2 linked regions of the Homo sapiens genome follow. The protein of the gene in region 1 purifies or fractionates together with the protein of each later gene. This does not show direct contact. Each region holds a gene or a part of one and is shown in the gene's direction. Other genes may lie near its edges.

Evidence for each region. Proteins that work in one complex are often made in the same cells at the same time.
Region 2: the proteins of UBE3C (region 1) and XRN1 purify together in Homo sapiens (affinity purification with mass spectrometry; one large-scale study listed by BioGRID and IntAct). This does not show direct contact.

Annotation. Positions count from the first base shown.
Region 1 is NC_000007.14:157,176,281-157,181,214, forward strand, and holds part of UBE3C (ubiquitin-protein ligase E3C), read left to right. Parts: intron 1-2,409; coding exon 2,410-2,567; intron 2,568-4,934. UniProt on the Homo sapiens protein: E3 ubiquitin-protein ligase that specifically catalyzes 'Lys-29'- and 'Lys-48'-linked polyubiquitin chains.
Region 2 is NC_000003.12:142,328,951-142,333,884, reverse strand, and holds part of XRN1 (5'-3' exoribonuclease 1), read left to right. Parts: intron 1-795; coding exon 796-918; intron 919-1,350; coding exon 1,351-1,510; intron 1,511-4,247; coding exon of another isoform or gene 4,248-4,269; coding exon 4,270-4,451; intron 4,452-4,934. UniProt on the Homo sapiens protein: Major 5'-3' exoribonuclease involved in mRNA decay. Required for the 5'-3'-processing of the G4 tetraplex-containing DNA and RNA substrates. The kinetic of hydrolysis is faster for G4 RNA tetraplex than for G4 DNA tetraplex and monomeric RNA tetraplex.

The DNA of each region.
Region 1 (4,934 bases):
TTTTTATTTTTGAGATAAGAGTCTTGCTCTGTCACCCAGGCTGGAATGCAGTGGCGTGATCTCGGCTCACTGCAACCACTGCCTCCTGGGTTCAAGCAGTTCTCCTGCTTCAGCCTCTCAAGTAGCTGGGACCACAGGCACGTGCCACCACGCCCAGCTAATTTTTGTATTTTTAGTAGAGATGGGGTTTTGCCATGTTGGCCAGGCTGGTCTCAAACTCCTGACCTCAGGTCATCCGCCTGCCTTGGCCTCCCAAAGTGCTGGGATTACAGGCGTGAGCCACCGTGCCCAGCCAAACCCATGTTTCTTTAACAACAAGAAAACACTCCTCCTCATCTTTCCTCTTTAATCTCAGTAAGGTCTCATGTATTTTTTAAAATACAGTGTGTGACAGATGACTTTTAATGGTCTGCTTATAGGTAGAGAGCACCCTGTAAGCAGCCCGTTTTTCTTGGCTTGGCCTCATTTGTATTTTGAGAGATCTTTGTTTTCTGTGAGGTCACAAAGCCTTAAGTGCTCTCTCTGCCCCAGGCCTGGGGCTGTTTTCTCTAAGGAGCACTGATTCTTTTTGATGAGAAATGGAATTTTAACAAAATGTAAATGTTAGAAATTGTACTTCAAGTGTATGTTAGTAAGTCGACAGTCTTATCTGCCACGTGCCAGAACATTGAATTTTTCTTTTTCTGTAAATGTGGCCTTCCAGAACCACCTGCAGCTCCTTTTATGACTAATCACATACATATTTTTTAATGCCGTTGAACATTTCTGAAGTCATGGAATCACTGGGTCACATAGTAGTTATATATTTCACTTTAGAAGAAACTACCAAACTTAGGACAGCAGCATAGGAGAGGCGCAGTTCCTCCATATCCTGAACCCTTGGTATTGACATTTGTCAAAACCCAGCCATTCTGATGGGTGTGTAGCTGTATTTTATTGTGATTGGAATTTGTATTTCCTGGATTACTAATGATGACGGGTGTTTCTCAGGAGCATACTGGTCACTCAGATGGCTCTTTTTCAAGAGTCTGTTCAAATCTTTTACTTCATTTTTTAAGGTGGGTTGTCTCTTGACAATATGGATATCCTTTTCCCGTCCAAGGCTGTCCCGATAAACCTGGAGCTACATCCTATGTTGTCTCTCACACGAGGCACCGTTCCAGCACTTCTCTCTGTTGCATTATCAGGTTTACCTCTCACATGGGATTATCAGCACACATGCTGCTGACTTTTCCAGGTTGACAAGAGGCTCTCCCACCGCCCGCCGCTGCCCTTTGCGTCCCAGCGGCTTGTTATGTGTAGCCCCGCTCCTCCTGCACTCGTACACCCCTCGAGAGACACCAGTGTGGTGCTGAGGGGAAAGTTGTGAAAAGGGCAAAGACAAAACAAGGTCTGGCTGGGTGTCCTGCCCAGCCTGCCCGCTGGGTCCTCACCCCCTGTCTCTCCTGGGCTTTGCGGCTGTTGAGACAGAAGGCAGCCTGCGGTAAGCGGATAAGCCGTGTAGACACACCCCACCCAGAACCCTGCACGTTATTCCCCTCCTGGCAGGGCAGAAGGCTTTTGTCACATAGAGAAGTTAGTTTCAGTGAGGCATTGAAACAGCCTCCTGGGTCCCTCATTAAAGGTGATGTGTGGTCAGATGGATTCTGTTTTTTTTTTTTTTTAAGAAAAAGGAAAAACAGCTGTAAAATACCTTGTGAAAGCAACAGGAGAAATCTAAAAATAAGTTCGGTGTTAGACAAAGTTTTTGATAGAAAAAAGGATTGGGGTGGGGGGAAAGAGGGAGGAGTGGACTAGAGACAGCCAAGAAGAAACTTTCGGGAGTGGCAGATGTGCTCTGTGTCTTGATTGGTGCGGCCTGCCCGACTGCTTGTGCTGCCCTCTCTAAACGGATAGTTAACCTGCAGTTCTTCTCATAGTAAGAAGGGAAGCCTCAGTCAAAATGAGAGTTGACTTAGGACCAGAAATATATCATTGTTCTATTTGGGGGATATTGCAGGCGTGGAAAGTCTCAAAAGCATCTTTAAGGAGATGAGATGCACTGTTAAAGAGATTCGTATCTGAGTTTAATTAAATGCAGCTTCTTGGTACAATTCATGGATTATAATACTTCTTACAGTGTTTTGTAATCTTTAATTTTTCGTGTTCATTTCTCCACTGTCCATTTTTCTTGTCTGTGAACTTAGTGCCAGCATACCGTTTGGCACATAACGAGAATTCTTTTAAAAACTGTCTGAATGACTGAATGTTAGTTGGATGATTTCCCTGTCTATCTGTAAGATGTCCCTATTTTCAGAGATAATCTTGTACTGGAATAGTTTCTTAACCATTGTCACTGAGAGTAACTTGGGGAAACTGGTGACATTTTGCCATCCTGTAAGTGTGTGAATACTTTTTTCATTTTTACAGGTTGCTGCAAAACTGTAATGATGACAGTTTGAATGTTGCACTTCCAATGAGAATGCTTGAAGTATTTTCGTCTGAGAATACTTACTTGCCTGTTTTACAAGATGCTAGCTATGTGGTGTCAGTGATTGAACAAATTTTGCACTACATGATTCACAATGGTAAGTAGTAGGCAGGATCAGAACTGTGGCTCAGCATCCTGATGGGGAGTGAGCAGAGGCCAGCCTGCTGCTGTGAGCCTGTGCCCTCAGTCTCAATGTCAGAGCGGTACTGGTGTCCCAGACGCCTTGTGCTCCATCCACAGGTGCCCACCAGAGTCCCAGATTCCAAAATCTGTCCTTGGCTCCACCCACTCTGAAAATTCAGAAACATGCTACTCTCTTTGCCTTTTTCTTTTGCTTGGAAGTGAACCAAAATTGACATATGCTTTCATCAGTTGTCCCGTCATCCAAGATTGGTGTCTGCAGTGCAGCTGCCGGTCCTTCACCTGACCAGGAAGGGCTCTTACCACCTCCTGGTCATTCTGAGTGAATGGGAAAGGTAATGCCACCAATGTATGAGTTGAACATCACTCCAAGAGCCTTATGAAAAAGTAAATTTTGTTAAATGATTTTTCTTCCAAGAGTGAGGTCCTTTCACATTAGTTCAGTAGAAGAGAATAGGATATTTAGTTTGAATTTTCTAACTCAGTGCTAAAGTTTTAATACATTGATAATGCTCCTAAAATGACTGCATCGTAGAAGCTATACTGAACTGCATCTGAAACCCTTGAGGACACATTAGTGACACTTTCTGGAGAAAAAGGATGAAATAAACATGATTTTTAAAAATTTTATGAAGTGAGCAGTATAAATCCTAACACAAAAGAACCTTTGGTCTCGACATCCTCATAGGTAGAAACCCAAGCACTTCAGGACTCCTGGGCTCGAGAAGTATTTGTCAGCATTAAAAATGTGCGTGAGACTAGTTGTGAAGGGAGGTCTGGAGAGCCGTGGCTGCAGACAGAATTATAAGCAGCTGTGCTTTCCTTCACCTGAAGTCATAGTCTGGGTTACATCTAACGGACTTGAAGTCTGGACCACTTGGTCCTCTTGGTCCTCTGTCAAAACTACAGAAATTAAACGCATACTCATTTCAGCCTTGCTGCTTGGCGTGTTACTATTTTTTAGACTCCTTAGTTTGTTGAAAACTTAGGGAAACAGTATTCCGAGTTAATTAAAAGTAAACTGAAAGTTGTGGAATTTGATCTTTTTAAAAACTAATAATTAAAAGTGGTTCATTGTGTTAGTTGACATATATACTGTTTTAAGACTAAGCGTTTGAGAATTTGTATTTGTTTTCTAAAATTGTAAGGAAGATATTTAAGAAATATGCATTATTTGAAATGTGTCCCAATATACGAAATGCTTAAAAATCTTACACAGAAACTGCCGCTTCTAGCATCTTCTGTGGTACAGCAGTTGTTTACTTTCTAACAGTCGATAAAATTTTAGCCTTTTAAATTATAGTATTACCATTATTTGTATTGTTATTGCACATTCTGTGCCATGAAGCTTTTTAACATTTGCAACAGAACCTTTGTCATGTTGTCAGTCTATTCAGTAAGTACATTGTTAGTTATGTTAGTCACTTTTTTAAAAAAGTCTCTGTGTATTTTTTAAAATTCTTGATGTATTTTTATCTTTTTAGTTTCATAGCAAAAGAGCTTTCAAGCTTTCATATGAGTTTCACTAGTTATCAGTATACACTAGGTTAGACTTGGGGTAGTTACAAAGTAGGTCTAATGATAAAGTACTGAGTATGCATTGTTTGGTGATCTTCACTCAAATACGAAGCTGTGTAGGACTGTTTCAAAAACTAGCCCATGCAGATGGATTGTTTTTAATGTGCTACCAAATACGCTTGTATATGATGAGATACTCAAAAATTGCACCTGAACCTTCTTATTCTATAAAAATGGAGTAAATGATTCTGAAAGAATATATGATTTGGATCATTCTTGATACCCAGAGTTATGTTCACTGCCTCCCACCCAGAGTTCCTATCAGAAGCGTAGGCTGGATATTTTAAGAGGTTCTGAAAGTTGTTTCAGTTTACGTATAAGCTGCCTTTAAACAGTTAACTTCTTCAGTTCCCAGATTGTGGTCTCCAAATACATCATCTCCTCTAAAAGGAGCTTAAGAGTTTCTGGAGAAAAGGCTGATTGTAGGGCGGGATGCAGGACTGCCAGTGACCCTGGGGCTCAGGAGCCTCCTAAAGCCCACCCCGGGGCCCCAGGTGGAGCAGCATGAGGTCAGGACTACAGTGGAATGAAACCTACCAATATGTTCAACTCTATGAATTCAACACGGTGTTTAAAAAATGCACAAATCAGAGACAAATTATAAGATCACAATATGTGGTCCTTATTGAGCTCCTTCCTGATGCAAGCAAACTAGTTAAATAGAATTTCTAACATGAGACAGTTGGAGACTTGAATACTGACTAGATATTTGTGATGTTAAGGAACTACTCTTCATTTATTTTAG
Region 2 (4,934 bases), on another chromosome or scaffold:
TAAGAGAAAACCAGTTATATTGAAATACAGTTAGAATCCGGTAAAGTGCCATTGTCTGGTGGGGGCTCCCTTTCTGGCTTGCAGATGATGCGTCTTCTCATATTCTAACATGATGGAGAGAAAGAGCTCTATTCTCTTTCTATTCATATAAGGACACTAATACCATCATGGATGTTGCACCCTAAAGACCTCATCTAAACTTAATTACCTACCAAAGGCCCCACCTCCTAATATGATCCCATTAGGAGTTAGGATTTTAACAGAAGAATTTTGGGGGAATACAAACATGCAGACCATATAAGTGTTTTGTTGCCTATATTCATAATTGCAGGAAATGCTAAATCTCATTGAGAGGTTAATGAAGATTAAGGTGTAATTTTCCCCATCCAAGTTTATAGGCCCCTTTTCTTATGATACAAAAGGGAAAATAGCACATAAAATTTTTTTGCAACAATTTATTTAGAACACTATTACATATTAACTATAAATATATTTGCACAAAAAGTTTATTCTTACTTTTTTAATAGACTTTAGAAGGGCCTGCCAAATATAATATTAAGCTATTGAAGAGAAATGAAAGTCCAGAAGTCTCAGAAACCCAAAAGGTTGTGACTGGTTATCCAAATGCTATTGATAAGGTAAAAAACTATTTATTCCAATTCTCTTCCCAAACTTTAACACCTGGGAAGATGATTGAGTGAAAATCGAATGACCATTTTTGTACATAAAACTCAGCTTTTTGTGTGTTCTTGTATTATACGTTCATCTTCATGCCCAAAATATTTATTCTTTTAGCCTAACTCTGGAATTGAGAACTTTTTAGCATCTTTGAATATCTCCAAAGAAAATGAAGTACAGTCATCTCATCATGGGGAGCCTCCAAGTGAAGAGCATTTGTCACCACAGTCATTTGCCATGGTTCGTATTTTGTAGGAACTTTCTTACTGTGGTAATTTCTCGACTGTTGACCATGCAGACATATCCCATGCAAGTGTTCAAACACTTCCATCATGGAGGCTGGTATGTTACATCATTATTGTCATCTTGTGAGGAAACCAGGCTGCCCTGGGCAATTTAGCCATACTTTTTCTCTTTAGACCACAGTTCCCCTGCTTTTCAAACATTGCTACTAGGTAACTGGGATGAAAGTTAAGCAGGAGGATAAGTATCGTTTCTGTATCAGAAATGTGGGTGTTGGGTTTTTTTTTTTCAGTTTCTATCTGAATGTAGTTAATGTCTTAATTGTTAACAATGGAATTCTTTCCAAGAAAGATCAATAAGTTCTACAGATGTAATGTTGACTTTGTTCTCTTCACCCTCACCATCTCCATGTGAATCATTTTCAAAAAGAAGGGAACACGGATGCTTAAAGAAATTCTAAAAATTGATGGCTCTAACACTGTGGACCATAAGAATGAAATCAAACAGATTGCTAATGAAATCCCTGTTTCCTCTAACAGAAGAGATGAATATGGATTACCCTCTCAGCCTAAACAAAATAAGAAATTAGGTAAGTAAACTAAATACTATTACCAATAATATCATTTTAAAAATTCAATTCATTTGGTTCTTTTTAATCATGTACTTTTAAAGATAAAACTGCTTTTATTTTAATGTATTTATTTATTTTAGAGATGGTGTCTTGCTGTGTTGGCCAGGCTGGTCTCAAACTTCTGACCTCAAGCAATCCTCTCACTTCAGCCTCCCAAAGTGCTGGGATTACAGGTATATGCCACCACACCTGGCCCAAAACTACTTTTATTCTTAAAACTATAATTTTTATATTTGTTTCAGTTATATAATAATATAACTGGCCAGGTGTGGCTCATGCCTGTAATCTCAGAACTTTGGGAAGCTGAGGCAGGCGGATCTCTTAAGCTCAGGAGTTCAAGACCAGCCTGGGCAACATGGCGGAAACTCTGTCTCTCTAAAAAATACAAAAGTTAGCTAGGTGTGGTGGCGTGTGCCTGTAGTCCCAGCTACTGGGGAGGCTGACGTGGTAGGATTGCTTGAGCCTTGGAGGCAGAGGTTGCAGTGAGCCAAGATCACGCCACTGCACTCTAACCTGGGCAACAGAGATAGACCCTGTCTCAAAAAACAAAAAGAACAATAATAATACAACCATGTAACCAATAGATCTACAGTCACTAAATGTCTTCTTGTGATTACTTAATTGTAGTGTTATAGATAATCATTCTGTAGACATCCAAACCTTTAAAAGTTTGCACATTCTAGCTTTTGTCCTCAGTAATTTAAAAATTATCATGTAACTTAAATACATTATTTAACTTTTCTGAAATCTTGTTTCTTATTTATAAAATAAGAATAATACATTACAGATTACTTGTGGTAATTATATAACATGTATAAATATAAAACAGCACTATGTCCAACACATTGTAGGTGCTAATAATTGATATTAATATTATGTTAAAATAACCTAACTGTTGTAAAAATAGAAAAATCTACAAAATCAATTAAAAATCATTAATAGAGTTAGATATAGGAAAGTGAGTCATACTCTTAAGTCTGTAAAGCCTATAGCATAACATCTGGCACATAACTGGATTTCAGTAAATATCCGCCATATTTGTTCCTACCCTGAATGTCCTCTATACTTTAGCATTTTATCTGTATAATGATCTACTAAAGGCAGCCAGGAAGAATGACTGATACAAAAGTGGATGTGGGCAGAAGTTTCTCAGAGAAGTCAAAAACATTTTGGAATAAGCAGATCTAAGCGTATTAAAGATCAAAACCTGGAATTGGCTGGGCACGTTGGCCCACATCTGTAATGCCAGCACTTTGGGAGGCCAAGGCGGGTGGATCACCTGAGGTCAGGAGTTTGAGACCAGCCTGGCCAACATGGTGAAACCCCCTTTCTACTAAAAATACAAAAAATTAGCCGGGTGTGGTGGCAGGCGCCACCAAGTAGCTGTAATCCCAGCTACTTCAGAGGCTGAATCAGGAGAATCGCTTGAACCCGGGAGGTGGAGGTTGCAGTGAGCCAAGATCACGCCATCACACTCGAGCCTGGGCAACAAGAGCGAAACTCTGTCAAAACAAAAACAAAACCTGGAATAAAAGCAGAACCTAACCCCATTTATATTCCAGTGATAATTAATTAAAAATTCCAAAAAATATTAGGAACCTGATTATTTATTATAGTGACAGACATGGTCCTGAAATAGAACCAAATTAATTTTAAGACAAAATTAGATAAAGATGGTCCCATTGTCAAAAACAAGTAAGTTTTACTTTATTTCAGTATAGGAAAAAAAAAAAAAAAAACTCATAGGCTTTAGAGTCTTAGGGTCACTAGCTCAGAATCCAGCCCCTGTTATAGAACTAACTGGCTCTGTGACTTTGAGCAAGCCACTTAACTGCTTTTTTAATCTATATTAGTAAGAAGTTTGGATTAATTCTTCAATGAGGTATGCTTTTGTTCTATTAGTGAGTTTGTTAATCATAAAGAATGTGAACACTCAGAATTTTAAAATCATCTTCCATATAAAAACACTTAGAAGACAATTTCAAAAAAAACTTTTAAGAAATATTATTTCAGAGCCACAAAAATATTCATCCATGTGTCTCAGAATGTAAGGTGGAATTGCAAGAATTGAGGTGGAAGCCAAAACTTCAAAACTTAAGGATGAATTATATTTCAGCTCAAGAAAGCCATTTGTTTATTCATTCTTTTATTTTTCTCTTCTTACTTCTGCAAAACAAGAAAGCCATTTGTTTGTTCAAATTTTACCTGTAGCAGTACCATGTAGTCATTAGCTGCTCAAGGTTTTAATTTTTGGCAGTTAGGTACTTATATTTTAAAATCTTTATCTTAATAATTTATCATTAATCAATTATACTCATCCAAAAACCTTTACTGAAGTCACAATAATTTTAGGAAGTACTAAATAGTTGTTTATATGTGCTTCATGGAAGACTCATCTTTTTAATGCAGTTGGTGGCTCTATAGCGTCTAACTGAATTTTTCAAGGTTTTCGACCAAATTTATAAGGTGCGTGGCCAGAGGACCACTGAAGGTAAGCTGACAGTCACTTGGATGGCAGGTTGTACTGCTAGAGTCCAGGATTTGGAACTAGAGCCACCTGAAATCCTGATTCTGTTATTTAATAATGGGTGGCCTTGAGCAATTCACTTCACTTTTTAGCAGTTTCCTGCTTGCTCTTCTATAAAACCCTACAATAAGTGCATAATTTGAGATAGTATTTTATTAATAAAGATAGACTCTTTTCTCTTTTTTGGTAGCATCTTATATGAACAAGCCTCACAGTGCTAATGAGTACCATAATGTTCAGTCTATGGACAATATGTGTTGGCCTGCCCCCAGCCAGATCCCTCCTGTATCCACACCAGTAACTGAACTTTCTCGAATTTGTTCCCTTGTTGGAATGCCACAACCTGATTTCTCCTTTCTTAGGATGCCACAGGTATAGTATACTACTGTTCTATTTATATAAATTATTTAACATTAAGCTTAAATAAATTGGTTGAAAATGTTTAGCTAGAAAAAATAAAATGGGGCCTATTTTTCTTAACTTTATGAGCAGCATAGATTTATGCTTCTTACCCTAGCTCTAATATTTATACATAACCAAAGCCCTAAGAGAAGCTGACAGGGAGGAACTGGGCAGCAGGTATCCTGGCAAGATTCCTCAAACTAATAGAGCCAGGGATCTTGGCCTACAGTAGCAATTTTCAAACTTTTTGGTCTCAGAAACTTCACACTTTTTTTGGAGGACCCCAAAGAGATTTTGTTTACTTATATCCATATTTACTGTGTTTGAAATTAAAACAAAAAAAATTGGCCAGTTGTAATGGGTCATGCCTGTAACTCAGCACTTTGGGAGGCCAAGGCGGGAGGACAGCTTGAGGCTGGGAGTTTAAGACCAGCCTGGGCAACATAGCAAGAC